2 separate regions of the Homo sapiens genome follow, and region 2 is linked to region 1. The links come from fine-mapping of genetic effects on plasma protein levels. A gene starts in region 1. The other region holds a variant in brackets. All regions are shown on one strand. Distances are between the middles of the regions.

Evidence for each region. A credible set is the group of variants that fine-mapping cannot tell apart. PIP is the chance, under the fine-mapping model, that this variant and not a neighbour inherited with it causes the effect. The UK Biobank Pharma Proteomics Project read protein levels with antibody pairs (Olink). The fine-mapping took linkage between variants from a reference panel, not from the people measured, so its PIPs are less certain.
Region 2: its variant is the best candidate, but not a certain one, in a credible set for the plasma level of the PTN protein (UK Biobank, PIP 0.66).

The regions. Positions count from the first base shown.
Region 1 is chr7:137,342,608-137,345,531 of GRCh38, reverse strand. PTN (pleiotrophin) reads left to right here and starts at 1,799. Exons shown (of 5, transcript NM_002825.7): 1 at 1,799-2,093. RefSeq lists a cis regulatory region at 1,247-1,256 and promoters at 1,260-2,005, 1-2,005.
Region 2 is chr7:137,367,593-137,370,516 of GRCh38, reverse strand. No RefSeq gene overlaps it. Among named protein-coding and RNA genes, the nearest start is that of PTN, 25 kb to the right of the region's middle. The variant T/C (reference allele first, on the strand shown) is at 1,605.

The DNA of each region.
Region 1 (2,924 bases):
ATTATTCCCTTTTCCTGGAGGGCAAAACTGCTCCCAATTGATAATCACTGATGTATACAATTTTAGTATATACCCATCTGAATAAAGGGTGATATTTTTGGTGTAACATATGTAATTGAGTAGAAATCATGGGAATCTCATGCTTACTTTATCAGCCCTATAGAGAACACCTCAATCAAGCCAGCATTGTTCACCTAACTGGTAGCTAGCTGTATGTTACATTTGTATATGTTAACATAAAGCTGAAGAACAGAAAGAAAATGGATAGCTCTTTGTTCAATGCCTTAGAAACTTTGCCCCTATGGAGTGTTAATAGAATGCTGAGATATCTTTTTTGGTAAAGGGACTGGGAAAAATGCCAAAAAAAAATGCTAATGTGCGTTTCTCCACACTTTATACAGGTGAAATCTGATTAAAACAAGCACTGCTTGCTTCACACAGAAGTGGAATCACAAAAGGAAAACAGGTAACCTGAAGCCTGTGTGTAGGAGAAAGGAACACAGCTTCCTTATTTAGTTATTTCATTTGAGAATTGTATGTGGTATGTATATGAAGAGTTTGGGAAGGGGGATAAATTGTAGGTGTGTAAGTGCATCTCTGATGCCTTTCCTTTTGAAAAGCTTGATTGACTGCTTGATTGAGTTTGTAGAGCCACGTCTGGCTCCAGTCAACTTCTCCAAGGGACATTTCTACAGGTAGCTGTCAATAGAAGAGCCCCAAGTCCCTAAAAACTACTTGCCACAAGACAATGCTTCTAATTTGGGGATTTAAGGATAGTTCTAAGTAAACAAATTGCTTAATAAATATTTGTCAAATTGAAATGAAGGGATGTAACCTCAGAATTATGAAAAATGTGGTCTATTTTACAACCAATTTGGGAAGGACGCCATCAAATGATAAGCTGACCAGTAAAGGTAAAAGTAGGTAAAAGGAGCTAGCCACGGAGCAGGAAAAGCTGATAAGTGGCAGAAAATCTCGAAATTTACATTTCGAAAATGTTTGGGTGAATTTGTATAATACATCTTAATCCTTTTACACAATACTTTTATCTCATCTTTATCATAAATATTTACCTATGCATTGCCTTAGCGTCTTTCCTGTATTGAATGAAATGACAATTCCAGAGACGCAAAGCCCAGCCTCCAAGTTTTACAAACCTCAGAGTTTGAGCTACTTTGACGAATCCTCTAAATTCTTGGGTGTCAAAGGCATGTTACTAAATAGGTTGCTAAAGGCACCAAGGAAACCAAAAAAGGAAAGAGCTCTCCCTAAAGGTAAGTAGCACTTAATTGGGAACTTTGAGACGTCTGTCACTCTTTGTGACAATTGAGAAAAAGTACTTTGTACATTTTGTGCTTTGCAGGTGAGATGTGACTGACACCTTACTGTCTCTGTGTTTAGAGAGGGCTTTCGTGGGTGGAAGAAGAGGCTGGTTTGAAGAGAGTGCTTTTCCATTCTGAATATCATTAAAGGATTGTGGGGGGCCAAAAATGTAACCTAAAATGCCATCAATTGTCCATTTAAAATATCCTATTTGGCAAAGTGGCTTTGCACTCATCTGAAGAATAGATCATGGGTGGAGTTTGGAAAAGAAATGTTGTGTTTCGTCTCTGCTAAAAACAAAACAAGGTACCATCTCATGGCCTCTTGGTTCAAATCCGTTTTCTTGCTCCGCAGGGAGAGACTGCCCCTGGAGTATTCTGCTTTTAATAAGCTTCCCAATCAGCTCTCGAGTGCAAAGCGCTCTCCCTCCCTCGCCCAGCCTTCGTCCTCCTGGCCCGCTCCTCTCATCCCTCCCATTCTCCATTTCCCTTCCGTTCCCTCCCTGTCAGGGCGTAATTGAGTCAAAGGCAGGATCAGGTTCCCCGCCTTCCAGTCCAAAAATCCCGCCAAGAGAGCCCCAGAGCAGAGGAAAATCCAAAGTGGAGAGAGGGGAAGAAAGAGACCAGTGAGTCATCCGTCCAGAAGGCGGGGAGAGCAGCAGCGGCCCAAGCAGGAGCTGCAGCGAGCCGGGTACCTGGACTCAGCGGTAGCAACCTCGCCCCTTGCAACAAAGGCAGACTGAGCGCCAGAGAGGACGTTTCCAACTCAAAGTAAGTGAGAGGAACGTACGATTTCTCGGAGGGCTCTTCGATCGAGTTTGCCTTCACCCTGTGCCACTTTTCTGGGTGCCAGCAGATGATGGTGGTAGGGGTGAGAGAGGCTGCCTGGTGTCTTTGCTGATAGGACTGCTTTCAAAACTGACTTGCTCCAGAGGCCAAGGGAGGCATATTTTTGGGGTTTCAGGTTAGGTTAGTTCGGGTGTGCTTAGGTAAGTGAAAGGAAAGAAGTTTTTGTGATGTTAAGCATGTATTTGGACCGTGTTCCAGCTACCAGCTGGAGAGCAAGACAGGGTGGGCTGGAGAGTGCATCTTTGCTTTTTGTAAAACCTGGAGCTTTAGTAGGTGTGTCTCTGGCTGGGTAGGTGCAAAGAAAGTAAGGCAGCCTGAACAAGCAGCTCTCATTTTCCCAGCCTCTCTCTGATTCTCTGATTGCCCCAGAGCCTGTCAGCCCATGACTCTTAGCTGGCATTTCTAGGTAAGCTGTGGGGGCTTGTTCCTCCCAGTGCTAGCTGACATGAAACGTCTCTCACGGAACTACTGGCACCCGTCTTCCCACCTGACAGCCCAGGAATGGTTCCAGAAATGGTTAGGTCCAAAGTTTAGAAGACACACCTGGAGTCCCATCTCTCATTTGAATGCAAATTTAAAGAACTGCCCAGTACATAGACCCTTAAACTTTTAATTTGACCCACATAAATTTAGGATATATTTGTTACTAATTTACTAGATATTTAGAGTTTCTGAGTTGTTGTTTCTAATAAGTTAAGAAAACATTTTTTGAGAGGAATGTATTCAACTCCTTTCTTAATAGATGGAAAGTGA
Region 2 (2,924 bases), 25 kb before region 1:
TCAGATCCATGATTATATCCACATCAGAGCATATAGTATATGCTGATAATAAGGTCTTTGAGAGGAAAAGGGTGAGGGGAAGGACTGAAAATATATCAGTAGGATAATGGCTCCATCTACTTTCTCTCCTCATCGAAGCAACAACTGTATCAGTAGCTTCTCCCTAAAACAGAGTATTTCATCTGAATATTCTCTGATTCAAGGGTTCTGCTTCAAGTCTTGATGATGACTTAGGGAGCTGCAGTCTCATTTTTTTCAGAGCACTTAGATTCCAGCTTATGTTTTTTCTTCTCCCTTTATCTTTCTCTCTCCTCTACCCTCCTTTCTTCCCTGTTTATCTTCCTTCCTTCCTCACTCCTTCATTCTGTTTTGATAGAAAATCAATCACTTAATGACTTGAAGGAGTTTCAGGCTCCTAATGGAGAGCTACTTTAGACTCTTGGGAAGGAGGGACCACAGGGGTTATTTGTGAGTTTCTAAATCCCAGGTATGTCAGCCTGAAAAACCTCTAACTGTGGGGGGTCAAAAAAATCACAAATTTGAGGTTAAAGTACTAAAAGTTATTTTATATTCTATGTCCTTTCTTGTGATATAGCTTTAAGGTTAAAAAAACAGTTTATGACATATTTTATCAAATTTACTATTAACGTAGCTAACCAGTAATATTCTAGTTACTGAAGTCATCATTATCCAAATCCCTGTAGTTGAAAAGATGCATAAAATCAAGAATCAAAAGTTGCCATGACCTAGCACCATTCACTTTTGAGCATATGGCTAATAAAATTAGTTTCCTTTCAAAGAGCCTTCTATTCCTGGCACAAATACCCATCCTCAACCAATCAAGATCTTATTGATCAGTCTCTAGCTAATTTTTTGAATGCTCTAATGCCCTAACAACCCAATATAATACAAGAAAAGTCAGCTATAGAGACAAATCATGGACTTTTAAAAAGATAGAGGACAATGATGGGTAGTCTCTGGATATGAGAATAATCTGAATAGCAAAGAATTGAGGAAATTTTGAAAAATTAATGAGTTATATATAATTAGAAATATAACCATGCTGCAGAATTAAAATGTGAAATGGGGCATAATGTCTCATATAATTTTGTTGGATAAACAGAAATGCAAATGTAAAAAATAATGCTTGATTTATTCTTTGTGTTAATAATCAATGTTTATTTGTAGTTAAAATCTAAATTTGATAAATAATATAAAATATTTTAGTTTTGTTCCTCAATATAGAAATGCTCAACTTACAATGAAATTTTGGCCCCTTATATATGCAGATATTTTATAGGTTCCAATTATTCTCAGATAATGACACCGTCCTGTTTATACTAATGGTATGACATTTAAAATTCAACTTGCGATACAAAGAACAGAAAAAGATGACCACTTATTGAGTGTCTTTTATATTTTGTGATGTGCACTAACTATATATTACACGTATTTTCTCATTATTAATCTTCACAGTGACCTTCCATGGTAAGAAGCTATCAAAAACTCCACTCTATAGATGAAGACACCAAGACTTAAAATTTAAGTAGCTTGTATAAAGTCAAATAGTTATGGTGTGAAAGAGAAGGAATTATGTTTGTAAG[T/C]TGTTTATTAATGGTGTTCAAGAAGGACCAAGTAAATAACCCACCACCTTACTGCTCAATTTCTCTGCCAGTTGAGAAATTAAAAATGAATGAATGAATAAATGAATAAAAATAAAACAAGACAAAGCAAATAAGAACCCAAAATATTACCTTTATTACTGATAAATCTTATGTTGGAAATTGTGGTGTCTATTGTGGAGACTTCTAGAATGATGCAGTCCACAGGTTGACATTACATGTGGTTCACTAAATCTCCTCAATTGATATGATTTGGCTGTGTCTCCATCCTAATCTCACCTTGGATTGTAGTTCTCATAATCCCCACATGTCGTGGGAGGGACCTGGTGTGAGGTAAGAGAATCATGGGGGCAGTTACCCCAATGCTTTTCTTGTGATAGTGAGTGAGTTCTCATGAGATCTGATGGTTTTAAAAGGGGCTTTTCCCCTTTTGCTCAGCAGGTCTCCTTCCTGCCACCTAGTGAAGAAGTTGCCTTTCTTCCCTTTGCCTTCCAGCATGATTGTAAAGCTTCCTGAGGCCTCCCCAGCCATGCTGAACTGTGAGTCAATTAAACCTCATTATAAATTATCCAGTCTCAAGTATGTCTTTATTAACAGCATGAGAAATGACTAATACACCAACCTTGAAGTCCAAAAGAAATGTGAATTAGTACAATTGGGGTTTTAAAAATTCATCAACAAGAGCTATAGCATTGGCTGTTCAGGAAAAATGAAGCTTTTAAAACATACATCCCATCTTTAATAACATTTCATCACACACAGCTCACGTGCCATTATCAGAGATAAAACATGTGGCTGAATGAGACATTGATATGACTTATTGGGAATACATCTTGTGCTCTTAGTAAGTTCCTCTTCTAAACATTATGATGAAAAAGTGCTTGAAATAGTATATTTCTCACCTACTAATTTTACCTTATTGAGCCAAAGAAATAAAAACGTTGTTATCTAAAACAGTGATCCCTAACTGCTTGGGCACCAGAGACTGGTGCCGTGGAGAACAATTTTTCCATGGACTGGCAAGCTGCAGGGGATGGTTTTGGGATAAAACTGCTCCACCTCAGATCATCAGGCATTAGATTCTCATAAGGAGTGCACAACCTAGATCCCTTGCATGTGCAGCTCAAAAAAGGGTTTGCATTCCTATGAGAATGGAATGCCACCACTGATCTTACAGGAGGCAGAGCTCAGGCAGTAATCTCGCTAGCTGCTCACCTCCTGCTCTGCGGCCTGATTCCTAACAGGCCATGGACCAGTACCCGGGCCATCTATGGCCCAGGGCTTGGGGATCCCTGATCAGAA